Linked DNA regions of Homo sapiens: regions 1 and 2 are each linked to region 3. The links come from fine-mapping of genetic effects on gene expression. A gene starts in region 3. Each other region holds a variant in brackets. All regions are shown on one strand. Distances are between the middles of the regions.

Region 1 (9,869 bases), 130 kb after region 3:
TTTATCATAAATGCATGGTGAAATTTGTCATAAACTTTTTTTCTGCATCTACCAAGATAATAATTTTCTTTTTTTCTCCCTCTGTCTACTTATGTGGTGAATATACATTGATAGATTTTCTGGCATTTATTCAACCTTCTATTTCTAAGATAAACCATTTAGTTAGTTCTGAGGGGTTTTTGCTCTGATTTTATTTAGAACATTTTCATCCATGTTTATAACTGAAATTGGCCCATAATTTTCCTTTCTGGTACTATCCTTGCCTGTTTTTTATTTCAAAGCTAAAAGGTGATACTGGCTTTATAAAATGAGTTGGAGAGATTACCCTTTTCCTCTGTCTTCTAGAACAATTTGTGTCATGTAAGGAGTATCTTTCTTTGAAGGTTTGGCAGAAGGTAAAACCATCTGTTCTGGTAATTTTTATGTAAGTGTGAGTGGCTGTGCATGGCTTTAAAAAGAACTACAAATCCAATTTATTTAATGTTTTAAGTCTACTCAGGCATTTAATTTCTTACTGAGTTACAGTAGGCAATATTATTTTTCTAGAAAATTGTTCTTGCTTTTTGGTTTCACATTTATCAGTACAATACTCACAGTAGTTTCTTACATTCATTTAGAATTTTTACAACTTCACTGCTATCTGCCAGTCTTTATTTGTGACTTCACTCCTGTTTTTTCTTGATCAGTTTGCCAGAGGGTTGTTTTTTGAGAACTATTTAAAAATAAAAGCATCTCTACTGTTTCTTTGCTTCATGTTTCCTTAATTTATGCTTTTATTTTTTTTCCATTTTCTTTGGATTTACCCTGTGATTCTTTTTCAGCTTCCTTTGTTGAATGCTTAGGTAATTAATTTTTAAACCTTCTCCTTTTGGTAACAGGTATTTAGGGCTATAAATGGACCACTAAGTATTTCTTTAGATGTTTCCTAGGTTTTGATATCAAGTGTTTTTATTGTTGTCTAAATAGATTATAATTGAAAACTATTGCAAATATGAAATTTAAATATCTATAAGTTATTTAGAAATATATTTTATAATGCATGACTAGCTATCTTTTTGTTATTAACATTGCAAGAAGGTCAGATAACGTGGTCAGTTTTTTGATATTTGTTGAGATGCATTTTGAAGCCTAATGGATGGTTAATTTCTATTTTCTTTCTATATCCATTTGACTATGTTTTTAAAATTATGTTATTTGCATTATCTGTAGCTTTATTAATTTGTCTGCTATAAATATCAACCCATTATGACTGAGGTCTTGTCATTTTGTCTTCCACCTATTTTGAAACTTTGTTAAGTGACTACAAATCCAAGATTATTTGATAACACTGAGGAACTGTGTCCTTTATGTAGTGGTCCTCTTCATCCTTACTAATTTTTTTCTTTTTTGAGACTGAGTCTCACTATGTTGCCCAGGCTCCGGTGCAGTGGCCATGATCTTGGCTCACTGCAAACTTCGCCTCCTGGGTTCAAGCAATTCTCCTGCCTCAGCCTCCCAAGTAGCTGGGATTACAAGCATGTGCCACCATGCTCGGCTAATCTTTGTATTTTTAGTAGAGATGGGGTTTTGCCGTGTTGGCCAGGCTGGTCTTGAACTCCTGACCTCAAGTGATCTGCCCACCTCAGCCTCCCAAAGTGCTGGATTACAGGCGTGAGCCATCGTGACTGGCTCTTTATTTTTTATTTTTAAGTTTGCAATTACCGGTTTCCTTCTACAGGGATATCATTACTTTTTCTTGTGAGAGCCCCACGTTGTCATAAAGGTTTTGCTACCCAGGCATTTGGCATTGGCCTCTGTGGATATTCAAAGGATTTCACAGGTCCAGGACCAGGTTTTTGATGGATTTCTTGGCTAGGAGATTTGGCATCATGCAAGTGGTAGTAAATTCAGATCCTACACCTGTGAATGGTGCAAATTTGGGGCTCTAGCTACTCAAATTGGTGCCCAACTCTACCTGCACGCCCACACATCCACACACCCAGTTACAGGTGGGGTGGAGCTCCTAACAGCACCCTGGGCAGAACACTGCTTCCTCTGGGCAGCTCCCTGGGCCCTGGCCTCATGCAAGTTCCCCTGTTCAAACTCCCTCCCCAACTTGATGCACTCCAAGACCACCTCCTAACCTCTAGCCCTCCCACCCCTAGCCCCTGGAGCCTGTGTCTCATCTGGTGCACCCTGGGCCCCCGGCGTCAGCTCTGGTTGCTGATTCATTTGTGGCACCTGAAGATTTCTCTTCCTGTCTGTCATCTTTCTACTCAGTATTTTATTTGGGTGGGGCGGGAGGGGAATTGTGTTTTCTCCAACATTTTTTGGTCTCCACGGTGGGAGCACAGACCCATGTCCCAGAGTTACCAATCTCCACAGGTCACTATAATTGGAAATGTCCCCTCAGGTTTAAAACAGATTTAAACATTTACCAAACTCATACTATGTGCCAGATACATACATTCCATATATATAAAAACACATATACATATATAATAGTGCACACACACATATGCACATAGACATATATACATATCACACATAGCATATATTCATATATACATATGTAGCACATATATACACATAGAGCACATAGCTCTATACACAGCACATATACCTATACACAGTAAACACACATATATGTATACCCATGTACACGGACACACCGAGCACATATATAACGATGACCACGAACTCACAGTTGTGGGTAGGAAACACACAGTTAAAGGCAGTCCTACCCTACAGCTCAGGGTGTGTCTAACAAGGTGAGGGACTCAGAGGGTAGGACTCAGGTGGGAAGGGGAGCTGGGGGGAGCCAGGTGAGGGAGCGGGGTGCTGGCTGCAGGAGAAGTGTGCGTGCACGTGGCTGGGTACCAGGGTCAGGCCCTTCCCAGGCGGGCTTGGGCACCGGCTGCCTGATCCCTCTCCAGCTTGTTGGGGAACCCCCTTCTAATGCCATGGAGCCTGGCCTCTGCCTCTGGGTCACCTGTGCACCCACATGACCGCTGCAGGACGACGCGGGTCTACTCCATGTGGATTCAGGGGTGTTTGGGCAGTGCTCTGTGGGGAAGGGAGACCAGGGGCCCCGAAGCTCTGAGAGAGGAGGGTGCAGACACATGCTGCTGTCCCACGGTCCTTGTACTTATACTTCTGATGGGTCTTCCCAGGCCATTGTCCCCCACCTGCCACCTTCCCCATCCCCCACTCTGCTCTGGGTGTCTGGACAGGGTGGTGATGTCCAGTGGGGCTCAGAGGCCCTCAGGGCGCCTGGCTTCCTCTTGGGGGTCACCAGGGAGCCCCTTGCAGACATTTCCCAAGGGCCCGCAGTGTGTCAGGGGCTATTCCAGGTACCAGGGTGCTGGAGAGAAAGAGACAGGCCCCTCCTTGCACCTGTGGATGCCGTTCTGCAGGAGAGACGGTCCCTGAGCAGGGACAGCAAGGTGGCTTCAGCCTGGCACCTGTGAGGGTGATGGCGAGAGCTGTGATGGGGGCCTTTTTTTTTTTTTTTGACACGGAGTCTTGCTCCGTCACCAGGCTGGAGTGCAGTGGCGCGATCTCAGCTCACTGCAACCTCCGCCTCCTGGGTTCAAATGATTCTCCTGCCTCAGCCTCTCCAGTAGCTGGGATGACAGGTACACGCCACCATGCCCAGCTAATTTTTGTATTTTTAGTAGAGACAGGGTTTCAGTATGTTGGCCCGGCTGGTCTTGAACTCCTGACCTCAGGTGATCCGCCCACCTGGGCCTCCCAAAGTACTGGGATTACAGGTGTGAGCCACCGTGCCCGGCCTTGATGGGGGCCTTTATGCGGAACCCTGATGGGTTGCAAAGGGATAAGGGTTGGAGGTGGGGCGTGTGTTAGGGAGATGGCCCCAGAGGACCCCTCCCGGTGGGGAGATGCTCAGCTGCAGGGACCCCTGAGAGAGTGCAGGTGACATTCGAAGGAATGTGTGGTCATGGGTGGGGTAGGGGAACAGAGAAATGACAGGGAGGCTGATCTCTCCATTTACTGGAACGACGTGATTGTGTGCTGTATTCGAGGATAGTGATTCAGTGGACAGGGGACTCCTGATGCGTGGGAGAGGCCGCAGCTGCAGGAATGATTTCCTGGGGAGGTGTCGAGAGGAGAGGGGACCTAGCCCACAGTCGGGAGCTTGGCCAGCTAGGAGCTGAGACATCAACATCATCAGGAGGAGGCGCAGAACCAGGCGTGGGTCAGCCAGGGACTTGAGGGGGGGAGGTGACACTCCCTGGCATCCTCTTGCTCCTTGATAGCAGGAGAGTGTCAAGTATTGGGGCTGAGGAAAGGAAGAGGTACTTGGGGTGGAGGGGTTGAGAGACAGGAGCCCTTATCCCAGCCGAAGTAGAATAATGAGCTGTGGCTATTTTCTAGTAAAAGCCAACACATACGTGAAAACTGGCCACATCAGTGGAGATGCCTGGCTTCTCTGCAGTGACGTGAGCTTCAGGATGCAGGGGTGAGTGGGGAGGTGGAGGGTGGGGGAGAGTACGTGTCTCTGCCACCCCTGAATCAGGGGCTGGCATACAGTGGTGCTCAATAAATGTTTGTGGCTTGGCCCCTGGATTAAGCGCCCCGCAGCGCTTAATGAACTCCTGAACTCCCGGCCCTCCTTCCCTCGTCTCTGCAGATGGAGTGAGTTCAGCCAGCATGTCGGCTGGATGGGTGGGCACCGCGTCTGACTTGATCCCTCTGTCTGTCCACCTGGTCCCTAGTGTGAGTCCAGCTGCACCGTTTCGTAAGCCCCCTGCCACTGCGCAGACCCTGGTGAAAGTGAAACATTCCACGGGGATTTGGGCTGTGAGAAACAGCCTGCCTCTTATCATATTCTGCTGGGAGAAAGTGCAAGCAACACCCCCATGATCTTATCAATATCCTGCCAGGCAGCAAGCCATATTGCCCAGACCCCTCCCACCCATACCTATAAGTACCCCAGCCTGTAAGCGGTGGTGGGCTCTGGCATCAAGCTGGTCCCCCACCTCCGCAGGTTTTTACAATATACCTGCGTTTCCTGTAGAGCCGCCACTCTCTCTGTGTGTGTGTGTCTTTCCTTAACCCTCACCTCCCCTTTAAAAAACCTAACACTAGGCCAGGCACAGTGGCTTACACCTGTAATCCCAGCACTTTGGGAGGCCGAGGCAGGTGGATCAACGAGGTCAGGAGTTCGAGACTAGCCTGGCCAATATGGTGAAACCCTGTCTCTACTAAAAAATACAAAAATTAGCCAGGCGTGGTAGTGGGTGCCTGTTGGGCACTGAGTAGCTGGTGGGTCCCAGCTACTCGGGAGACTGAGGCAGGAGAACCACTTGAATCCAGGAGGCAGAGGTTGCAGTGAGCCCAGATGACGCCATTGCACTCCAGCCTGGGCAATAGACCGAGACTCCGTCTCAAACAAACAAACAAAACAAAACAAAACAAAACCTAACACGTAGTACCATGCCTGCAGGTAGTAAATGTTCAACAAGACTTGCTGACGGATGAATGAGTGTGCAGACCAGCAGGTTATACACTGGCTGTTTCCTGTAGGGGGCTGAATGGTGGTCCCTAAAGATAGGTCCCTGTTCCAGAACCCGTGAATGTGACTTATTTGGAGGTAAGGTCTTTGCAGATGTAATAGAGTTAAGGATCTTGAGATGAGACCATCCTGGATGA[G/T]GCAGTTGGCCCCTAATCCCAGTTCTTATAAGAGACACACAGAGGAGTTGCCTAGGGAGGAGAGGGGGCCTCATGAAGACACAAGCAGGGACTGGGTTTATGCAGCCACATCCCAGGAACGCCTAGAGCCACTAGAAGCCAGAAAAGCAAGGAGGGGCTCCCTAGAGCCTCAGGGGGCGCATGGCCCTGCCGACCCTAATTCTGGGCTTCTGGCCTCCCGACCATGAGAGAGGAGCTTTGTGCTTTAAGCTGCCCGGTCTGTGCGGCCACAGGAAATTCCTATGCCCCTTGGCGCAGGTGTGCCCACCATAGAGAGCAGAGTGCCATCGCCACACACTGCTCATTGAGGGGTTGATCCTGGACTTGGGAGAGGGCAAGTGGAGCCCACCCACAAGACGCCTTCCCAGCTGAGCCCGACACAGCAGGAACAGCGGGGACCCGGCCCCAGGTGGCTCTGCTCTCAGCCTTCTCTTCCTAGGAAGGGTGCGGGGGTATCCAGGGCCAGCCAGGGGGCCCCGTGCCCAGCACATCATGAGCACTCAGAGTTTATTGGCTGAGTGCCTGATGGACTGATGGACTGATGGACAGTGGGACCCCAGACTGCTCAACCCTCCTCAGGGTCCCACGGTTCCCCTGAGTGGCTCTGGGGCTCTGTTAGAGGTTCTGAGCTTGAAGCTTGCTCCTGATCCCCATCAGAGCCAAGAGAAGCCCCGATTTATGCCAACTCCTGCCCCCAGCACTAATCGATGCTGAACGAGGCCTCGAGGAGGTACCGCAGCGGGGGGAGGTGATCATCACTCAGGCCGGGGACGGCCGCACGGCGTCAAGGGGTGTTTACAGTGTTCTAGTGTGCTCAGCGCTGCTTTGCTTGGCCACTGAACACATCAGAGACCGTGGAGACCCCTGGGAGGAGAGGCGTTAATAGCAGTGACCGCCCCGGGTCAGGACCCATGGAGGTGAACGTGCACAGCCCTGAGACGGAGCACCTCCTAAAATTTGGGGGTCTTGTTCTTATTACCAAGGTTATTTGTGTTTACTGTAGAGCACATTGGAGACGCTGGATAGATACTCAAAATACCGAAAAAGAAAAATTGCTCATAATCTCACCACCAGAGATAATTCCTTTGGGAATGGATCCTTCCAAGCGTTTCCTGTGTGTAAGCTTTCACACTGTGGGGTATGTTCGTGTTATGCTTTGATTCCCTAGTTGTTGGGTTTAAAATATTTCAGATTTTTTTTTTTTTTTTTTTTTTTTTTGTGATGGAGTCTCTCTCTCTTGCCCAGGCTGGAGTGCAGTGGCTTGATCTTGGCTCACTACAAGCTCTGCCTCCTGGGTTCACGCCATTCTCCTGCCTCAGATTCCCAAGTAGCTGGGACTACAGGCGCCTGCCACCACATCTGGCTAATTTTTTTGTATTTTTAGTAGAGACAGGGTTTCACCGTGTTAGCCAGGATGGTCTCGATCTCCTGACCTCGTGATCTGCCCGCCTCCACCTCCCAAAGTGCTGGGGTTACAGGTGTGAGCCACCGCGCCCAGACAATATTTCAGATTTTTAAAGTATTTTCTTTTTTCCTTTTTGAGATGGAGTCTTGCCCTGTTGCCCAGGCCAGAGTGCAGTGGCGTGATCTTGGCTCACTGCCACCTCTGCCTCCTGGGTTCAAGTGATCCTCATGCCTCAGCCTCCCGAGTAGCTGGGATTACAGGCGTCTGCCACCACCTGGCTAATTTTTATATTTTTAGTAGAGACGGAGTTTCACCATGTTGGCCAGGCTGGTCTCAAACTCCTGACCTCAGGTGATCCGCCCACCTCGGCTTCCCAAAGTGCTGGGATTACAGGCGTGAGCCACCACGCCTGGCCTTTAAAAGTATTTTCTATTTCCACTGCCTTATGGCCAATAATGGAGCCTGATTTTTAGAATGTGTTGAGGAGTGTGAGTGTGTGTGTGTGTGTGTGTGTGTGTGTGTGTGTGTGTGTGTTGGGGAAGGCACTAGGTTGGAAACTGTCCTCTCATATTCAATGTCAAGTAAGTTTTCCAATAGAGAATCTCTCATGTTAACTTTTAGGATTCCTGTCCTCAAAAGCCTTGCTTGACCTTTTGTCCATGCCACTGAAGACACAAAAATGTGTTCTTTCCCACGGCTAGTATGACGTTGTCCCTTTCTCCCTGTGCCTTAAACATCTTTAAAAACGACACAGATAAGATGCAAAGATTCTTATTTTGAAAGCTTCCAATGCTAAAGAAGAAAGAAGGTCTACCCTTGTCTTCACCCCCAGGTATCACTATAAATCCTTGAAGATTTTTTTTTCTGTGCATTTACCTATCAATATATGTTTTTTACATAAATGAAAATATAGGGCCTGGTTGTCTCGTAAGCTTGCTTTCTCAAAAACAAACTATGTCTTCTTGAATTTAGCTTGTCCGACGCTTCTCCGTGCTGTGCTGCACACTGAGGTGGCAGGTCCCAGGGTTGGTGACATGAGCTCATCCGCGCTTTGAATGTTTTTGAGGTGGGTTTCATTATTTCTGCTTTATTTGGGCTCAGAGAAGCTGAGACACTTGCTGGGCTACCTGGCTACCCTGGCCGAACAGGAACTCCCCCAACGTCCCACGGGGTGCAAAGCATCGCTTCTGTCCCCCACGCTCTCCTGCCTTCACCCAGATTGCAAAAAACAGGCCTCTCACCTGTCTTGGATGCAGTGTGTGGTCCCTCGGTGAAGGTGGCTGGTGCCTGCCCACTCCAGTGCTGGAGGCCTCAGCAGCCACCTAGGCCCAGGCCCCTGAGCCGCTCGCCCTGTTCTGGCTCTGGCCTGAGCTGCCTGCTTCTCTCCCGCTGGGCAGGGCTGCCCCCAGGCTCAGAGGAGCCTGTCCCCAGGATCCCCTGATGATCTTCGCTAGGTTCCCTCTGAGCAGTGGGAAGCCGGGCCTGAGGTATAAATGCAGGATGGGTGCCGGCCCCGCCTGCCAGGGCCTCTGCACGTGGGTACCGCGGTGCTGGCCCAGAAGAGCCAGCTGAAGTCTAATGGACCTGAGCATGAACCCCCGGCCCCCACAGGAGACAGCTTGGCGGCAGTGAAATGGAGGATGAGGCTGGGGCCTTCAAGGAAAGGTGATACCTCCCTTCCTGAATGCCACCAGGGATGGCCGAGGAGACCTCACAGCATTAGTGAGACCCACCGTGGGGGGTTCAGGTGAAGCCATGGAGGAAATGGGGGTTCTTGTGGGCTGGGAAAGGCTATTACAGCCACCCCCAACTGCCTGCCTGGGGAGATGCTCTGGCTAATGGACTCACTAAGGATGCTGCCTACGGAGGGATGGGGAGGAAGAAGAGCTGGGCCCGGAGCCCAGGATCTTATTTCCAGTCTGAGTTCCACTGCTTGTGAGTTGGGGAACCACACCATTCAGGTGACGTCTCTGAGCCTCAAAGTCCTCACCAAAATGCCTGTAGTCCCTCAGGGCCTCCCTCAATTCCTAGAAAGAAGGGGAGCTCACACACATGCCACACAGGCAGATGGTAGAGCAGCCCTTTCCCCCACACCGGCCGAGGCCCCCTTCCTGCCTGGCGAGGGAAGAGTTCTGATGTGTCAGTCCCCTCAAGGGCAGGATGGAGGCCGGCATCTTATCCGTGTCACCTGCCCTGTGAGGGTGCTGGCCTGGAGCAGGTGCCGGGTGGGCCGTATGGGTGGTGCAGCGGATGGCTGAGTCTCTAGGACGGTCCCCGAGCTAGCATGGTGTTCATTCTCACTGTCCCGCCCTGCAGCGGAAGGAGGTATAGGCATGGGAGATGCTGGGCATCTGCTTTGAACAAATGTGCATGAGGAAAGAAAAAGCGGGGACCCCAGACGTTAAGGCTGATCACAGAAGTAACCCTAGGCAACTGACTTGGGGGACAGTCTTAGGGGTGTGGGCGGTGCTGACTCTGCAGTGACAGTGAGGACTTCCCTGGCCTCTTTATTCTGGGTTTGCTGTGCTGGACCTATGGTGCCTGTCTCTTCTCCAGGAGGGGAGATCCTGCCTGAGAATGGGCCAAGACCCAAGAGACAGAGACAGGCTGCTCAGAAAGACATAAGCTTCCAGAAGGTGGCAGTTCTCACATTTTTTGTGCCTTCTGTGCCTAGAACATTGCCTGGCATGTAGAGATGCTCACATTTCTTGACTAATTGCTAGTTGATTGACAGAGTCCCCAGATCCAGGCACCTGGATCCAGCTGTTCT
Region 2 (9,869 bases), 36 kb before region 3:
GTGAGACTCCCTGTCAAAAAAAAAAAAAGAAAACCAACCTGGCCCTCAGCGTGACTTTCTGTAACATACTTTACTTAGCACAAACGGGATTCCTCAAAGTAAATCGGGTCTGCGGCCTCACCACACTGGCATAAACAGGACTGGGACTACAGGTGGCTAACCTCACCTTCCTGGAAACAGACAGCAGCCAGGTGAGGCAGGTGAGCAGCTGAGACTGGGATGGGCAGACGACAAGCCCAGGGCCAAGGGCGCAAAGCTCTTCCAAGGACCTGGTGCTTAGGGAGGAGGAGTGGGGGTGAGGTGGGGTGTCCAGGTGGAAGAACGCCAGTCACTAATAAATTCCTGGACCTCAGATAAGCCTCACAAAAACTTTGGGAGGCCAAGGCGGGCAGATCGCTTGAGCCCAGGAGTTTGAGACCAGCCTGAGCAATGTGGAAAATCTCATCTCTACTAAAAATACAAAAATAAACCAGGCGCGGTGGTGAGCACCTGTAGTCCCAGCTACTTGGGAGGCTGAAGGGCGAGGCTCACACAAGCCCGGGAGGTTGAGGCTACAGTGAGCCATGATCACACCACTGCACTCCAGCCTGGGCGACAGAACGAGATCTTGTCTCAAAACATACACATACACAAGCTCCAGTGAACTTTACTATATTATACAGCAAGACTGTTTTCTGTCTTAAATGCTTTAAATCATAAGATAACCGCAAACACACAGGCAAGCAGAGAATAACACCTGTGTACCCTCCTGGAATCAACAAATTTAACATTTTGCTGTATTGATTTAGAATGTCCCCCCTACCCCACCCCACCCCCACCAGTTTGTTTGTTTATTTTTGTTTTTGTAGAGATGGGATCTCACTATGTTGCCCAGGCTGGTCTTGAACTCCTGGACTCAAGCAGTCCTTCCTCTTTGGCCTCCCAAGCTGCTGAGATTACAGGTGCCCAGCCCTGCAAAAATTTCTAAGATGCAATAGATACAACCTCCTCTCCCTGTCCCCAGAATGCGGGGCTCATCTTTCCCTACGTATTTGAGTATCTACAAGTGCATACAGTGCCACCATACACGTGCGAGGCACACACAAATGCTGCCTACTCTGTGCGCGGTCCTGCAACTTGCTTCTCGTCCACATTGAGTTCCAAGCTGCCCCATGCCCACCTACACAGCCCTGGCCCTGCTGTCCTGCACCCCCCTGCTGGCAGGAACCAGTCTGCTCTTGTGTCCCTGCTGGGGCTCAGGGAACTTCTCTGTTCACTTTTTCACTGTTGCAAACAAAGAAGCAGACAGTGGCCTTGTCCATGTTGCAGCATCGTATTTTAATGGGAGTAGAAAAAGAGCATAGTGTTCGTGGGCACCCCTGGCCTCTGGGGCAGACTTCCTTATGCCTGCCCTGCCCTGCCTGCTCTACCAAAGTTCCAGCTCCTTCTTGATGTGGTCATCCTGCCCTCTTTGCCCTTGCTGAAGTCCCACCAGCTGCTCGACACCCCATCTCCCTGTGTCTCCCAAGTCAGCTTTCCCAAGGCGTCTGAGTGCCCTGCCCACCTCGCCATCGCTGCCACATCGGCCCCAGCCAGGGGCTTCTTGGAGAGGGGGGCATACTCCACCACTTTGCAGCCTGTGTTCCTTCCGCTTCTGTGTGTCCAGAATGGGCCACCTGTCCGCTACAGCCAGGCCTGGGTCAGGGCCCCCCACCTCCCACCTGCGTGGGAGTCCCTCACCAGGCTCACTGCGTCTTCCCCTCCCCAGCACCTTTCATCGAGGGCAGGAGGCCAGGGCACCCATGTGTTACAACTCCCCTTCCCGGAAGCCTTCCCTGGGGTCTTGGGCACACCCTGCCAGACTGGGCACTGTGGCTGGGAGCCCCAGCACGCTGGGAGAAGGGCCCTTAGGCCAGCTGGCAGCCAGGCCTGCGTCTGGATCCAGGCCACCAACACTGGGCAGCCTCTTTGCTCACCCCTTCAGCCTTCCTGAGGCTGTAGTGAGGAGGGTGGCAGGGGCATGGCATGGCCTGAGGCTTGGGCAAGCGTCCGCCTCCTCTGGCTGGTGGGGGCTCTGCCACATCCCACTCACGGTGTACAACTAAACCGTTAGTCTCTGTGGGCCAGCCCCACTTCCCGTTCCTTCTTCCTCCTGGGGGAGGCCACCAGGCACGCAAGCTGGCCCCGGTCCATCTGCTGCTGCCTTGGGCCCCTCTGGCTTCTGAACTAGTAGGTGGCTCCCCCTGCACCCTGGGAGTCAGCCAGCCCCCCAGGACTTTAGCTTCAACCTGAGCACACTGCACCTGACCTTCCAAGCACGTCTTCACCCAGCCAAAACTTCACCAGCTGACAATGAATCTCACCACCTGTCCACGTGCCCGCATCCTCCCCAGGGTTTCTCTTACTGAGAACGCCGGCACCTGCCCTGCCTGGGAAGAAGCAGGGATGGACTAGGGGTGTTCACTCCAGTCCCCAGAACCTGCTGATGTGAAGGTCCCCGGGCCGCGTGTCCCACCAGCAACACGTCTGCTCTACAGCCCAGCCTTCCTTTCTCCAAGCCACCCCCATACAGAGACTTCCCAGAGAGACCTGCCCAACGGCTCTTTAATCCACGTCACCCCAGGGGCCGGCCTATCTGCAGCCCCTCTCCTTCTGTGATTTTCTTCCATGCCCAGGTATCGGAGACATATCACAGCCCTGGTGGGAAAAGGTGGTGTCCCGGGGGACAAAGTTTACACAGCGTGACCATTGGGATCCAAGCTGCACAGCAGGGCGTGCACCTGTGCCCCAAGTTCAAGGATGGCTAGAGGAGAGAACGCTTTTACTGGAAAGGCAGAAAAGAGGAGGAAGAAAAGTTAAAAGGAAGAAATGAGAAAATACAGAAAAATACAGATGGATGAAAAGGGAACTTAACCTCTCCCCTGTCACTCACTCGTTCCCACAAATCATCGCGGAGCCCTCGGACGGGAATCCCGAACTAGCCCTGGGAATGGACTCGTGGAGGAGGCAGCTCTGGGTAAGTAAAACAGGAGGACCCTTGGGTGCTGTTCCTGAGCTAAGACCCCTCCTTGCTGTGTGCCCCTGGGCCAGCTATGGAGTAAATCGGAGGTGGCGGCAACACCCCGGCGGCCTCCACCACACCAAAAACAACACATCGTCTGGCATTGTCATGGGGCCGCGGATGTGTCTATTTTCACTGAAAGTACAGAAATCACTTCTGAGAAGCTGGCATGGTGGCTGGGGCCTGGCCTGTACCTCTGCCCCAAGTGGACACGAGCCCTGAAAGGCTGAGTGGGAGGCCAGGTGCAGTGGCTCACACCTGAAATCCCAGCACTTTGGGAGGGCAAGATGGGAAGATTGCTTGAGTCCAGGAGTTCAAGACCAGCCTGGCCAACGTGGCAAAACTCCTTCTCTGCCAAAAATACAAAAAATTAGCTGGATGTGGTGGCGCACACCGGTGGTCCTAGCCATTCTGGGGGCTGAGGTGGGAAGATTTCTTGTGTCTGGGAGGTCGAGGCTGCAGCAAGCCCGGACTGTGCCACTGCACTCCAGCCTGGGCAACAGAGTGAGACCCTGTCTCAAAAAAAATAAAAGAAAGGCTGAGTGGGGTTGGGGGATTGGGGGTGGAGATCGCCCACCTGGAGCCCACCTGCTGGGAGCTCACACAGACCTCCTTGCCCGGAGCACACGGGGTGCCCACCAACTCCCAGGTGGAGCATGGGAGCCAGGCCACATGCCATCCTGGAGGCTATGATGGGACTCATCACTGAGGTCTGTGCCATAGCACTTAAGCACCTTATGCTAATCTGCTCTCGGAACCACACAGAGATGCAGAATAAGAGGCCCCAGCCAAGGCTGCAACCCCTTCATCACAATTGTCACAAATCCGCTGTCCCGTCTCCAGCTCACCTATTCCATGGTTGTTCCTACCACCTTCCAAGCTCAGCTCTCCCTGTCACCTGCCCCTCCGCCAGGCCCACCAGCCTTGACCTATGCCACTAACTGGCTCGCAGCTGGGAAGTCTTCAGCTCTTTTTCCATTTCTGTTTTCTCCTTTCTTCATACTTAGCTTAAAGCTCCCAGCACTTTAGGGGGCAGCCCACGAATCCAAACTCCCCAAGAAATTCTACAAGAGACATTTAGCAATGTCACCTGCACCAGCTGGCAAATGACCTTCACTTGTGAGTTATGTGTCCAGTCTTCCAAATACACTTCTCAAGGACATGAATCCTTGTGTCATCCGAATTGAATCCTGAAGACTATGGACAGTTCTCCAACGCTGAATGCTACATCAACAATCGTGGGGGGGAAGGTGATAACACATCTTCAATTTTGCTTACGATTAACTTCATTTTAACAACTTTGCTCAATATCCCCCAAATCCTTGGCCAATAAACTGCTCTGGTACTTTGTTTTTTGAAAGTGTTCACTTTGTTCCCTTTCTCCATAATCAATTCCTTTTAACCAAAACCTTTCACCTCTTTCGAAGTCATTGGCCTATGAATCCTAACACTGGCCATGTAATCAAGAAGACACTCAACACAGGTCCCTATGCCCTTTGAGCAAACCTCCCCACTCCTGCACCCCCAGTCCTGCAGAGCTGAGACAGGCAGGTGGCTGAGGAAAGCAGGTGAAAGGTCAGCTTGATGCACCGTGCATTGCCAGGTTTCAAAACACGCCCAAGGAAAATGGAGATATGGGACTTGCCTCTGTAATATAAAACAAACAATAAAACTTGATACGTGACAACGGACTTCCAAGAAAATGGTCTTTATAGCAACTGAAATATGTAAATAATTTCTGAGTGGGGCAGAAGTCTTTCAACACAGCCTTGCAATCAACACGTATGGAGATACTAATAGATAGGTGTGTGGGAAGGTAGGTAGGTAAGACATAAAGATTCCTTTTTGTGCTTTTAATAATGAAGTTACAGCACATTCCTTTTTTTTTTTTTTGAGACGAAGTTTTGCTCCATCACCCAGGCTGGAGTGCAATGACATGATCTCGGCTCACAGCAACCTCTGCCTCCTGGGTTCAAGTGATTCTCCTGCCTCAGCCTTCCCAGGAGCTGGAATTACAGGCACGCACCAC[C/G]ACGCCTGGCTAATTTTGTATTTTTAGTAGAGATGGGTTTTTACCATGTTGACCAGGCTGGTCTCGAACTCCTGACCCCAAGCGATCCGTCTGCCTTGGCCTCCTAAAGTGCTGGGATTACAGGCATGAGCCACTGTGCCCGACCCAGAACATTCTTTTTACCAAACCCTTTGGCATATGCTAGACAATGTGACCCATATATATTTTTATATTGATGTATTTGACTAGCATTAGATCATTTAATTCCCACTAGCACCCTAGGAAATGGGTACTAGGGCTATCTCCATGTACTAATGAGAAAACCAGGGCTTAGATGTCAAGAAACTTGCCCAGTGTCACAGCCAGCAAATAGCAGGGCTGGAAATCAAACCCAGGCCCAGGCCAGGTGCGGTGGCTCACGCCTCTAATCCCAGCACTTTGGCAGGCCAAGGCGGACAGATCACCTGAGCTCAAGAGTTCGAGACCAGCCTGACCAATATGGTGAAACCCTGTCTCTACTAAAAATACAAAAAATTAGCTGGGCTTGGTGGCATGCACCCGTAGTCCCAGATACTAGGGAAACTGAGACAGGAGAATTTCTTGAACCTGGCAGGTGGAGGTTGCAGTGAGCCAAGATTGCACCACTGCACTCCAGCCTGGGTGACAGAGCGAGACTCTGTCTCAAAAACAAACAAACAAACAAACAAACAAACAAAAACCCAGGTCCAACTCCAAAACTTATACTCTTAACTCCCAAAGTAAAGTGGTAGGTACTACACAAAAAGTTCTACTTAGGATTCCTAAAGTTACAACACAGATATAAAATTAGGTCACTGTTGTAACCAAAATGATGAGATTGCAGCCAGCAATAAAACTCCAGTAAGTATAAACACCATCAGTGCCAACTGTAAAATTATTCACATGCTGCAGTCTTCCCACTAGCATTGCACAGTGCCCATGCACACAGGAGCAGGCTCTGCTTTCTATTCAAACCTAGCTAACAGCTGCCCATCTCCTCCAGCGGTAAACAACTATGTTGGAAATCCTCTGAGAAAATGTTACCCATGGGAAGCGACAGCTTAGCTCAGCAGGAATACCAGGCAGGGCCTCTAGGAACAGAGAAAGTGTGAGGCTGGATGACATGGGCCTCATCCCTGGAAAAACTGGAGAAGGCGCTGTAGGCAGGGTCAGAAGCAGTGTCTCTGGCGAAGGGCAGGGCAGTTATCTCATCATCTACAACACATTCTTGGATGCCCGGGTGACCAATGCCTGGGAAGATTCTGCTTCGCTAGAAAGCTAGTGCCAGCCTCCGGGACTGGCTCCAGCTCGGGGAAACCACCTTCACAACATGCATGATGTCCAAGGTGGCAAAAATCTGGCCTGGCCTCCTCACTGCTGCCCAAAGAACTTCAAGGGAAGTACCAGGAAGGCTCTGGAAGGACAGCAGCAGCCCAGGGGGTTCCCTAGAACTAGCACACATGTGCAGTAAAGTTCATGGCTCTTCTGAACTGAGATGCAGGCAAAAATTAGCAATAATGGGAAGGAAGAAAAGCAGCAGCTCCTCTTCTCCAGGCAAGTGTGGGTGTGCGCTCTCTGCACTGTATGAGCCACATCGTTATTCAATTGCAGATATGCACATCTGTAATGGTGCCCTTGTACTTTTCCAGTAAATGTGTATACACACAAACAGAAGTTGTTTCCCAAACTTGGCTGGGCGTGTTGGCTCACGCCTGTAATCCCAGCACTTTGGGAGGCCAAGGTGGGCGGATCACCTGAGGCCAGGAGTTCAAAACCAGCCTGGCCAACATGGTGAAACCCCATCTCTACTAAAAATACAAAACATTAGCTGGGTGTGGTGGTGGGCACCTGTAGCAGGAGAATTGCTTGAACCTGGTTGGTGGAGGTTGCAGTGAGCCAAGGTCCCACCACCGCACTCCAGCCTGGGCAACAAGAGCGAAACTCCATCTCAAAAAAGAAAAAAAAAAAGAAATTGTTTCCCAAACCTGATGGAAGCACCTTAGAAGTGAGAATGTAAGACTCACCTTATGTTTTTCGGAGGGTTTCATGTACAAGAAAGGTGAAGGATTTTCATTATTATTTTTTTTTTATAAGACAGGGTCTTGTTCTGTTGCCGAGCGTGACCTTGAACTCCTGGCTCAAGAGATCATCTTGCCTCAGCCTAAGCTGGGACTACAGGTGTGCTCCACTACACCCAGCCTGGAGCTTTCATTATGAAAGGTTGCGTCTTGAATTCATGACTGATCATTCAATATTCACATTATTTAAATTGGCCACACAGTGGATTTCCTGTACTGAAGTTTATCATAATGGACTATTCACATTTATGGGGTCAATATAATGGGTCGTCAGGTTATAAAAGGAATTCTGGGCTGGGCACGGTGGCTCATGCCTATAATCCCAGCACTTTGGGAGGCTGAGGCGTGTGGATCACCTGAGGTCAGGAGTTCAAGACCAGCCTGGCCAACGTGGCAAAACCTCATCTCTAGTAAAAATACAAAAATTAGCCAGGTGTGGTGGTGGGCACTTGTAATCCAGCTATTCGGGAGGCTGAGGCAGGAGAATCGCTTGAACCCGGGAGGCAGAGGTTGCAGTGAGCCGAGATCATGCCACTGCACCCCAGCCTGGGTGACAGAGGGAGACTTCGTCTCAAAAAATAAAAATAATAAAATAAAAGGAATTCTGGACTGGGTATGGTGGCTCATGCCTGTAATCCCAATACTTTGGCAGGCGAAGGCAGGAAGTTCGCTTGAGCCCAGGTATTTGAGACCAATCTGGGCAATGTAGCAAGACCCCATCTCTACAAAAAATACAAAAATTAGCCAAGGTGTGGGTAGTGCATGCCTGTGGTCCCAGCTACTTGCGAGTATCACTCGAGCCCAGGAGTTTGAGGTTATAGTGAGCTATGATCACGCCACTGCACTCTAGCCTGGATGACAGAGCGAGACCCTGTCTTACCAAGTACTGTAAAAATTAAGCCAATTCTGGGTGGATCACTTGAGGTCAGGAGTTTGAGACCAGCCTGGCCAACATGATGAAACCCTGTCTCTACTAACAAACAAAAACTACCTGGGCATGGTGGTGCATGCCTGTAATCTCAGCTACTCGGGAGGCTGAGGCAGGAGAATTGCTTGAACTGGGGAGGCGGAGGTTGCAGTGAGCCATGATTGCGCCACTGCACTCCAGCCCGGGCGATAGGGCGAGACTCCATCTCAAAAAAAAAAAAATTAAGCCAATTCAAATTTAGACCTTATAGTGCACCACGTCAATAAGTAATGGTTAGATAAATACAGACAAATATGATCTTAGAAAAAAAATTTGGAAAAGCCACAAAGATTCACAATTTTATAAAGAAGATAGCCAACGTATTGACAGACCCAGTTATCTGACCTAGCTATTCAGAAGCCCACCAGAAGTTTAACAGCTGCTACTTCTTTCCCACTGTGCCTGCCCTGCCTCTAGCCAGCATCGGCACTCGGGCAGGAGCTCAGACTGCAAGGAGGAGACCTGCACCTGCCCAAAGGACATCCTAAACCTCCTCTTCGTACCAGTATATTGTTCCCACAAATGTCCCTAAGACAACAGGAGCGGTGTCCCCTGTATCTCCCATGCATATTCTTCACCTTTGCACAGAATATAACAACTTGAACTTCTAATTCAAACTGAACTTGAACTGAACTTCTAATGTGGGGACTGCAAAATACATTGGTGTCCCTAAATGCCGCCTGCAGCCAGGACATTGTTTGCTAGAGCCTGTATTTACTTTACACACTCAAAACTCTCTTCACATCTGACCTCTGATTGGATCCTCACAAAACTCGTGTGACATGGAATGACAGGTTCAGACCCACCACCTTACAGATGAGGAAATGGAAACCCAGAAACCCTAGAGGCGGATTCAGTGCCACACCCAGTCTGCATGGGGTAGGGAGTGGGGGCCTCCAAAACCCAGGCCCTCTGGCTGCCCAGTGGTCTGGGAAGCAGCCTGGGAAAGGGAAAGAAAACACACAGATCTGGGTTCAAATCCCAGCTCTACCAATTACTCAGACCTGTGACCTTGAGCAAGTATTTGCCTCACATAAAGTATGCAGGATGCCCTTACCTCCTCCGGCAAACTGCAGGAGGACGTGGCAGCCAGCTCTGACACCTGTTAGGTCTTTACTGCAGGAACACGTTCTTTGTCCCTTTCCAACTGTAGCCCTGTGGTGCCAATGCAAACCCTCTAGGAATGTGGATTTCTCTTCCTACCTGTTGCACCCCCACCCCATGCCAAATCTCAATGCCAGCATTTGATACCTTCTGACTTCGATGTATACCTTTTAGCAATCTGTGGTTGTATTTTGTGCAAACTGTACTGGACATCACATTGAGCCACTGTGTGTATTTGAAGAAGTATAAAGAAACCAGGAAGCCCGGCGTGGTGGCTCATGCCTGGAATCCCAACGCTTTGCAAGGCCAAGGTGAAAGGGTCACTTAAGGCCAGGAGTTCAAGACCAGCCTGGGCAACATAGTGAGGCCTGTCTCTACAAAAAAATATAAAAAATTAGCTAGGTGTGGTGGCATATGCCTGTGGTCCTAGCTATGTAAGAGGCTGAAGAAGGAGGATCCCTTGAGCCCAAATGGGAGATTACGTTGAGCTATGATGGCACCACGGCACTGCACTCCAGCTTGGGCACCAAGGCAAGATCCTGCCTCGGAAAAAAAAACTCCTGGCGCAGTGGCTCATGCCTGTAATCCCCGCACTTTGGGAGGGTGAGTCAGGCAGATCACCTGAGGTCAGGAATTCAAGACCAGCCTGGCCAA
Region 3 (9,869 bases):
GAGAAACACCCAAGAATGATCAATAAAAAATAAATAAATAAATAAAAAGAAAGAAGAAAAAGAAAACTTGGATCCACGTGGATTTTATTCTGGTGTCGGACGTGAAATATGCATAACTTTCTTCGATTTTTCCCAAGGTTGTGCCGTGTGTGTCCCTGGCAACCTGGAGGAAAGGATTTGGTCGGGCAGTTAGCCCAGTGTGGGGAGGTGACATTTGCAGAGACTGAAGACAGGAGGCACAGTCTCCTCCATACACAGAGACCACAGACGGAGAGAGCTGCATGTGCAAAGGTCTCAAGGTGGGAGGAAGCTTGGCTCATTCCCAGAACAGCAAGGCCAGTGCGGCTGTAGGTGCTGGGGAAGCAAGGAGGACAGGGATGGGTTCCTGGAGGGGCCAGCCCAGGTAGGACCTAGTAGGTAACTGTGGAGTCTGGCTTGGATTTGGGCTCTAATGGTACCGAGGAGCTGCAGGCAAGATCTTTAAAACTGTTCACTTGATAAGATAAGACCCAGACGGGAAACTGGGGGGCCTAAGGTTATGGACAGTTCAAATTTTGCTGCAAATTGGCTGGGCGTGGTGGCTCACACCTATAATCCCAGCACTTTGGGAGGCTGAGGCATGTGGATCACCTGAGGTCAGGAGTTTGAGACCAGCCTGACCAACATGGTGAAACCCAGTCTCTACTAAAAATACAAAAATTAGCCAGGTGTGGTGGCGGGCACCTATAATCCCAGCTACTTGGGAGGCTGAGGCAGGAGAATCACTTGAACCCAGGTGGTGGAGGTTGCAGTGAGCCAATATCGTGGGACTGTACTCCAGCCTGGTGACAGAGTGAAACTCCATCTCAAAAAAAAAAAAAATTTGCTGCAAATTGACGAATTGTTCTCCAAAAACCTGTATTATTTTCCCTCACCTTTCACTTGATGTTATTTCCGTATCATTTGCTATTTTATTAAATATTTCTGAAGCATGGTTTTTAATAACTGCATGGTTTCTTAAAAAACATATTTATTGAGATATAGTTGATATATAGTAAACTATACATATTTAGAGTGTACAGTTTGATAAGTTTTGACATCTGTATATACCTGGGAAACCATGACCACAACCAACATAGTGAACACATCCATCGCCCCCAAAAGTTCCTCGTACCCCATTGGGGTGTTTCCCTCCTGCCACCCCCTCCCCAGGCAGCAGCCCTTCTGCTTTTTGGTAATGATTGCCTGGTGCTTCTCACCATATGGCTGCCTTGTAATTATTTGAGCATTCCTCTACTGTTAGACATCCATGTTTATCCCATTTTTGCTACTTCGGCTAGGAAGAGCATTCTCATACATACAGATATCTTCATATACTTGACTATTTCCTTACAACAAATTCTAGAACTGGTATCTCCAGACCAAAGGTTATGAATGTTAAGAATTTGGAAGCAATTTGCCCAATCTTGTTCACAAGGCTTGCTAGGTATGACATGCACTTTCCATTTGATTTTCTTTCTGAAAAGTTGAATCATCATAATGCCAAAAAAAAAATACTAACCCTCCAAGCGTGGCTCAGATATTTCTGCTTGGACCTAAGAGGTGGCTATTTTTGGAAAGGTCCTTTTGTGGCTGTGAAGGAAACAAATATTCCCTCTTCCTTCAGATCCTAAAGTACTCAGTACCTTTGTGGAGTTTGCTGTGGGAGCACCCAATAGCCTGCCCTCAGCCATTTCCCTTCCTGCAGAATTCAGGAGGCTTCTGCAGCAAGGATAGTTCAACCCCCTTCAACTCTGCAGGCTTCTCTGGTGGAGGCAGGGACCTCCAGAGTGACTGACAGTAGTTCCAAGGCAGGCGGAGTGGGAGAACTGGCCTCTCTGTAACCTTACCTGCCAGGGGCCCTCCACTTCCCAGGTGTGGAAACTGAGGCTTAGAGAAGGGTGAGGACTGGCTGAAAAATCCCATAGCAGATGAGCAACAGAACTGGAACCCAACCCAGCTCTGCTCCACTCTGACGGCCACAACAGCCCAGCAGGTGGTCTGAGTGGTGCTGGGGACACCAGATGTGACTCAGGTGAGATATGAACACATGGGCTTTATATCCACAGCCAGGTATTTATTTTAATGTGTATCAATAAGTAGCTGTGACATCGAGGCTACGATTTCACAGCTGCAGTGATGTATGACAAGGTTAAAGGAGGGATTTAAGCTAAAAAGTGAAAGAAATGAGGCTGGGTTCACACCTCTAATCCTAGCACTTTGGGAGGCCAAGGCGGGTGGATCCCCTGAGGTCAGGAGTTAGAGACCAGCTTGGCCGACATGGTGCAACCCTGTCTCTACTAAAAAAATACAAAGGCCGGGTGTGGTGGCTCACACCTGTGATCCCAGCACTTTGGGAGACCAAGGCAGAAGGATCATGAGGTCAGGAGATCAAGACCATCCTGGCCAACGTGGTGAAACCCTGTCTCTACTAAAATACAAAAAATTAGCCAGGTGTGGTGGCACATGCCTGTAGTCCCAGCTACTTGGGAGGCTGAGGCAGGGGAATCACTTGAACCTGGGAGGTGGAGGTTGCAATGAGCCGAGATTGCGCCACTGCAGCCTAGCGACAGAGCAAGACTCCGTCTAAAAAAAAAAAAATACAAAAATTAGCTGGGCATGCAGTAATCCCAGCTACTCGGAAGGCTGAGGCAGGAGAATCGCTTGAACCTGGGTGGCAAAGGTTGCAGTGAGCCGAGATCGCACCACTGCACTCCACCCTGGGGCACAGAGTGAGACTCCATCTCGAAAAAAAAAAAAGTGAAAGAAATGAAAGAAGTGTGAAATGATCACACCCGTGGTCATAGGCTACCGCAAAAGAGTCCAGAAACAGTGAAAATAGGCAGGGGCCTCACTGCTCCACCTTGACTCGGGCAAGCCCTTCCCCCTTGCAAAGACACCAGGTAAGATGGGTGGCTGCAGGTGGCAGTCCTGGGCTTGCAGGTGCCCCATCCTCACACACGCGCATACGCATGCAGGGGCACACACTGCAGAGGCCGCAAAACAGGCCTCCTCTCCAGCCCTACACCTGACCTGAGCTTCTCCCCACGCTCCAGGGAAAGATAATGACCACTGGTCCCAGGTGCCAGGTGCACGTGGCCACGTGGAAGGCTGGGGACGTGACAAGAAGGAGGCAGGGCTGGGGAGGAGTCTCTAGGGGTGACAGGGTGTTTAGAGGCCCTTAGGTGCTCTATCCCCCACGTCCAGGTGGGTCAACACTGGTGGGCTTTGTCTTGAGAGGATGCCAGGATGAAGGACAGGACTCCGGGCCCGTGCCTTGTCACAGCAACACCAGCAGGCCCTCCTCGGCCCCAGCCTTCTGACCACCCTGGCCTGTGGGAGCTCTGGGCCTTCCCGAAAGCCTCCCACTGCTACCGGCACTGGGCACTGCCAACAGCCCGCCAGGCTGCTTTACCTGTAAACTGCTCCGGAGGATTACCAATACGGTAGTTTCCTTTCGCCTGTTCTACACTGTACATCCTGTACCACAATTCCCATGCCTTTTGCTTCCTTCTTTCCCTCCTTTCCTATCTTCCCTCCTTTCCTACCTTCCCTCTGTCCCTCCCCTTTCCCCTCCCTCCTTTCCTCTTTCCTTTCCTCCCCTTCTCCTCCCCTTCTCCTCCCCTTCTCCTCTCCTCTCCTCTCCTCTCCTCTCCTCTCCTCTCCTCTCCTTCCTTCCTTCCCTTCTGTCTGCATTTGGTCAGTTACTCTCTACCTTTTTGTTGCTGTTCTCACACCATTGGGCCCTATTTTCATTTTGATTTCTTACTCTTTAAAAGAAAAAAAGTAGCCGGGTGCAGTGGCTCACGCCTGTAATCCCAGCACTTTGGGAGACCGAGGTGGGTGGATCACCTGAGGTCCGGAGTTGGAGACCAGCCTGACCAACACGGAGAAACCCTGCCTCTACTAAAAATACAAAATTAGCTGGGCGTGGTGGCGCATGCCTGTAATCCCAGCTACTCCGGAGGCTGAGGCAGGGGAATGGCTTGAACCCGGGAGGCGGAGGTTGCTGTGTGCCGAGATCGTGCCATTGCACTCCAGCCTGGGCAACGAGAACAAAACTTCGTCTCAAAAAAAAAAAAAAAAAAAAAAAAAAAAAAAATATATATATATATATATATATATAAAGAGAGAGTCATCATTCCAGCATCGCCCCTGCCTTCTCCTCCCCAGATTCCACTAGAGGAATGTCTAGTGGGGACTCTCCTCTAGCCCCATTCATGTTGAGTGTGAGCACACGCATGCACACATATGCACACACATGCGCACACACGCACAGGCACACACACACCCGTGAAGGCATGTAGGCCAGCCCTTTATGGCTTTATCTCCCCGTGTTTTTTTTTGTGTGTGTGTTTTTTGTTTTTTTGTTTTTGAGACAGAGTTTCGCTCTGTCTCCCAGGCTGGAGTGCAGTGGCCCAATCTCGGCTCACTGCAAGCTCTGCCTCCCGGGTTCACGCGATTCTCCTGCCTCAGCCTCCCGAGTAGCTGGGACTACAGGCACCTGCCACCACGCATGGCTAATTTGTTTTTTGTATTTTTAGTAGAGACGGGGTTTCACTGCATTAACCAAGACGGTCTCAATCTCCTGACCTCATGATCTGCCTGCCTTGGCCTCCCAAAGTGCTGGGATTACAGGCATGAGCCACTGCGCCTGGCCTATCTCCCCGTGTTTTAGACAACCCATGTTTCAGTTCAATTGCCCATTCCAATTTTTTGCCCAACTATTCCCCTGAGGATAACTCTCTGCCCATCGTTGGACATGATGGGGTGCACAGGATGTTCCTCGGGCTGAGGAAATGTGACCCCACCATCCAAATTGGTGCAGTGTCTTCTGTTCTCCTTCTTTTATGCACTCTGAGCATTTGCATCCACCACCAGGCAAGCCAAGCCCAGTCCCGAGCCGACACCCAGGGCTCCGGCATCAGCCTGACTTGCAGCTGTGTCCAGGGCCTACCCCAGGGAATTGGCCACACAGCCAGCAGCAATGTCTGTCTCTGTTGCTGGCTGACAGCACTGTCCTTATTGGCATTTTATGCCTCAGACGGTGCAAGAGAGACACTGACTAGGGGCATTTACTCACTTGCTATCATGAGGCAGAAATTTAAATAATAATAATAATAATAATCAGTACTGCATTTATTCACGCCAAGAAAAGTAAAAGCTAAGGCCCAGAATATGGCAAGGCAAAGGCTAAAAAGAAAAGAACAAGTTTTCCTCTTGCCTAGCAGCTCACTTTAAGGACAGTTAGAAGATAACGCTGTCCAAATAGCCAAGGCCAAAGGAATGGGCTCCAGACACCCCCCTCCCTTCCAGAGCAAGCTTGAAAGAAAAAAAAGAAAGACAGGTTCTTTTACTGTTACTCTTTTCCCAGGCTTCTTAAGCATGATTAGCATGATTATGTTTTACAAATGTCTGTATTTAGCCAGTTCTTGTTTTTCTTTCAATGCAGCTACAAGGCCACTGGCTAGGTCACAAATTATGTTATGCTATAGATTACGTGACCTGTTACTGTATGATTAACTGCTTTTATTTTGCTACTGCTTTTATTTTGCTCCTGTAAGGCTGTTTATAAAAACACTGCTCTTTGTTCAGGGCTCAGCTTTTGGATGTGAATCCTCTGAGCCGGTGCGTACCTAAAATAAACAAATCCTTCTGTACTGCAAATTGGTTTTTCCGTTCCTCAGTTTACCGCAACATTTTTGGCAACCACGAAGGGACTGGAGACGGCAGGCTTACTGTCTCCTTTGCCTCTGGGGGCTGGAGCGAGGGTCTCAGGAAACCTGTGACCCCAGGTGCCACCGGGAGAACTTCAGCCTGGGGGGGAGATCAGCTCTCCTGTGACCTGGCACCCCTACCCAGCAGCGAAACGGAACCTAAAGAGGGACTACAGGATGATTTCAGAAACAACGCGCTTCAGGAACCACAGTAAGGTTTTGGGGGCTCAAGGCAGGACCCGTCCCTTGGACAGAAGGGAGCCTGATCATCTCCCGGGGTGTGCCAAATAGTCCGAACCAGAGGGGCTGGGGGTGACTGGAGTGGCTTGTCAATTTGGATGAAACTCACACCCCGCCGACACAGGATGCAAGAGTGGCTCGCCAAGTCGGCTAGGGAACTGGAGGTGGCAAGAGTGGCTCGCCACCCCAACTGGGAACTAGAGGGGGCGAGAGTGGCTTGCCACCCCAGTTACAAACATGGGAACTGAAGGTGTGTGGAAGTGTGTGAATGAAAAGGCCTCATTAGGCGCATCAGCTGCGAAGTGAAGAGTCACAGATCCCTTAGTGTAGACTGTGTGCTCCGAGAAAGGGTGGGGCCGACTAAGACTAGTGGTGATCTGCATATGGCTAATAGGAGCTGCCCTACAGCTCAGAGTTGCAGCAGGAATAAGGACCTCTCCAAAGCCAAGCAGCATCTGAAAACCCCCATAATAGGAGACAGTGTGGTTGGTCGAAACGAGAGGAAGAGTGAGTAGGCAAGAGTGAATGTGCTGCGTTGTAAAGGGAGGAATGGGAGGAAAGTCATCAAAACATCAAAACTTACTCTGTGGGAGTGCATGTTACGGAACCTTAAGAAAGGTTTTGCAGGGGATTATAGAGTTAACCCCCTCAGAGGTTGAGAACTCTGGGTGAATTAGAATTGCCCTCTTCTGGTGTTGGATGGCTGACCGAAGGAACTACAGACAGGGAACAATTGGCCATGTATTTAAGGTGGTGACAAGGGTTGGAGAACAGCCAGTGTACCTGGATCAATTTCTTTATATTGACTCATAGTTAAATATAATATAGCCAAACCCAGCATTGATCCAGGCCTGTTTAACAGCTTATTGCAAAAAAAACCAAAAGTGAAAATAAGAGCAGCTTTGCCGGCAGACACAGAGTTAAAAGGGAATCCCAGAGACAGCAAGAGAAGCCAGTTTTACAGGAGCCACCAAAGGTAACAGAAATTCTTCCTCCATATATCCCAGCCTACCCCCGCTTTACCGAGGCCGACAGCCCCCCCAGGAACCAGATTCAGGAGCTAACATGCCCCAGGTCTCACCTCGAAGGGGAGGATCAGAGCCTTGAGAGGCCAGGAAGGAGGTCAAGATAGTCAAGTGGGCCATCTCAGATCTGGCCGTGCTGGAGCTATGCAAATGCCTCTCAGGGGGACACGAGGACCTATCTATTATGATGACCAGGATCCCAACTAGGACCCAGAGGATGAAACTCAGCTTCAGCGTTTGCAGAGGTACCAAGAGGCACTTCTGCAGGGGCTACGAGTTGGTAGAAGGAAAGCAATGAATATAAAGAAGATTTCAGAAGTGCTTCAAGGAGCTGATGAGAGCCTAAGTCAGTTTTATAAGAGACTCTGTGAAGCATTCCGGCTTTGTACCCCATTTAACTGTGAGGCTGCTGAACATCAGCCTATGGGGAATACTTCATTCGTAGGGCAAGCCCAGGGTGACATCAAGTGGAAGCTGCAGGCATGAATACCACCCAGTCCATAAAAGTGGCCACCACGGTGTATGTTAACTGTGACCAAGGAACAAAACGGGAAAGAGCAAAAGCCACAAGCGCGGCAGCTAAGCACGCCCACCATTAAGTTCCTCTCCCCAGCCCGGCTCTATCTGGAAAAAGAAGGGGCCAGGGACTTGGCGCCAGGAGAAGAGCAAAGGAAAAGGAAAGGAGAAAGTAACAGTAAGTGTGAGAAGGGAAAGAAGAAAGTAAAAAGGAAATCAGAAAAAAACAGGAGAGACAGGCGGCAGTGCACGGGGGCGGGGCCCGTGCCGTTGTCCGGCCCCACCGGCTGGCCGCAAGAGCAGAACTCAGGAAAGAAAAAGGAAAGTAAATTGAAGGCTTAAGAAAAAGGCCAATCTGTTGTCAACAGCTCTTATGGAAAGGGAGATTAGCAATGTGAGAGGACGTGGATGCGGACGTAGACGTGGAAAAAAGTCAAGTTAGGAATGGATTCAAGAGCCAGACAAGGTGGGCGCCTGTGATCCCAGCTACTCGGGAGGCTGAGGCAGGGGAATGGCGTGAACCCGGGAGGCGGAGTTTGCAGTGAGCCGAGATCGCGCCACTGCACTCCAGCCTGGGAGACACAGCGAGACTCCGTCTCAAAAAAAAAAAAAAGAAAAGAAAAAGAAAAAGAAAGAGATTAATGTGCGCGATGCAAAAAGAAAGGACACTGGAAGGATGAGTGTTCAGAAGGCAATGAGGGAAATAGCCAAGACCACGAGACAAAGAGGCCATCGGCCAAGGGCTGCCGCACCTTGGGGAACCAAATACTGATCTGATCAGGCTGGCAGGAGCCGAAGGACGTAAGGAACAGGACAGACCGGGAACCTTCTCATTAGGCACCCAGGGGCCCATGGTCACATTAGAAGTTAAAGGCAGCAGGATTCTGCTGTATCTGGATTCCAATTTCTCACTGATGGCTAAGCCACTAGATGGAGTTACAAAAGGGGAAGAAAAAGAACCCCTCCTCTGGGAAACAGCAGGAGAAGGAGCCCTGCCTGGTGAAAACTTGCTTATAGACTTCACAGAACCTCCCCGTGCCGGAGGTTATTGGTTCATGCTAGTGCTTGTTTGCACCTTTTCAGGGTAAGTTAAAGCTTTCCCCACCAGGACAGAAAAAGTACAAGAAGTGACTAAAGTACTGTTAAAAGACATTATTCCCAGGTTTAGACTGCCTCTAACTTTAAAGTCAGACAATAGGCCAGCATTTGTAGCTGAAATAGTGCGAGATTTAACAAGACTGTTAAAAATAAAATGGAAGTTACACACGGCCTACTGGCTGCAAAGTTCAGGAGAAGGTGGAAGGCGTGAACCGGACACTCGAGCAGCTACTGAAGAAATATTGCCAGGAAATTCATTTAAGATAGAATCAGGTTTTTGGCTATGGTCCTCCTCTGAGTCAGGTGCACCCCCACCAAACAAACTGGGTATTTGCCCTATAAGATTTTTTTTGGTCGGCCACTCCTACATCATAGGTCAAATTAAAGGTGACCTCCAGGAACTAGGGGAATTAACTTTAAGAAAGCAAATGCAGGTTTTTGAAACAGCCAAAGTGTTCATAATTAGGTACATGAAAATGCCTATAAGCCCGACACCCTTTTAAATCTAGTGACGCTGTTTAGGTTAGAAAGTAAAACCTAATTTCTCTAGGATCCATATAGGATGGGTCCTATATCGTAATCTTGTCCATTCCCACTGCTGTTTAACTTGCAGGTGTTATGTCTTGGATCCACCACAGTCGGCTAACACTGGCAGCTCAGGACAAGTGAACCAGCCAGCAGGACCCAGATCATCCAACCTGGCTGATCCTTAGATGAGACCGAGTTGCTGCTGAGGACAACAGCCCTGCTCTAGTCACTCTGGAGGCTGACTAGTCTACGCACGGCTGAAACTTGAGGACTTGTCAAGCAAGTAATGTAGCTAAAATCTTAAGACTAGTGGTTTTCGTGTACACTAACTGTTTTACTATTGTTCTGTCGCTGTGCTCAACCTTTTTCCCAGGTAAGGACCTTTTTTGTCCTTGCTGGATATGAATATGCTGTACATTGTTTTGTTGTTACCCCCCTTAACCATGTAGAAGAAACACCTACAGAAGGTGTCCCCACTGTACACATACTACTTGGTCAGGGAACAGTATAACTAGAACCCTATTGCACTATACTTATTATGAGTGTACAGGGACTCGCTTAGGAACTTGTACTTATAATCAAACCACCTATTCAACCTGTGACCCAGGAAATGGCCAGCCTTATATATGCTATGACCCTAAGTGTTTACCTGGGACTTGGTTTGAGATTCATACCGAGTCAAAGGGAGGAAGTTTTGTAAGTTGAACCCAAGCCTCTCTTCCCGGGG

The links.
Region 1: its variant is fine-mapped to the expression of LINC02701 in gastroesophageal junction (GTEx, PIP above 0.99).
Region 2: its variant is fine-mapped to the expression of LINC02701 in whole blood (TOPMed, PIP above 0.99).

The regions. Positions count from the first base shown.
Region 1 is chr11:68,988,299-68,998,167 of GRCh38, forward strand. No RefSeq gene overlaps it. Among named protein-coding and RNA genes, the nearest start is that of MRGPRD, 12 kb to the left of the region's middle. RefSeq lists a silencer at 6,368-6,534. The variant G/T (reference allele first, on the strand shown) is at 5,656.
Region 2 is chr11:68,826,719-68,836,587 of GRCh38, forward strand. The region is part of intron 1 of CPT1A (carnitine palmitoyltransferase 1A); the gene reads right to left. Among named protein-coding and RNA genes, the nearest start is that of CPT1A, 10 kb to the right of the region's middle. The variant C/G (reference allele first, on the strand shown) is at 5,070.
Region 3 is chr11:68,862,316-68,872,184 of GRCh38, forward strand. LINC02701 (long intergenic non-protein coding RNA 2701) reads left to right here and starts at 6,045. Exons shown (of 2, transcript XR_950253.3): 1 at 6,045-8,600; 2 at 9,228-9,869.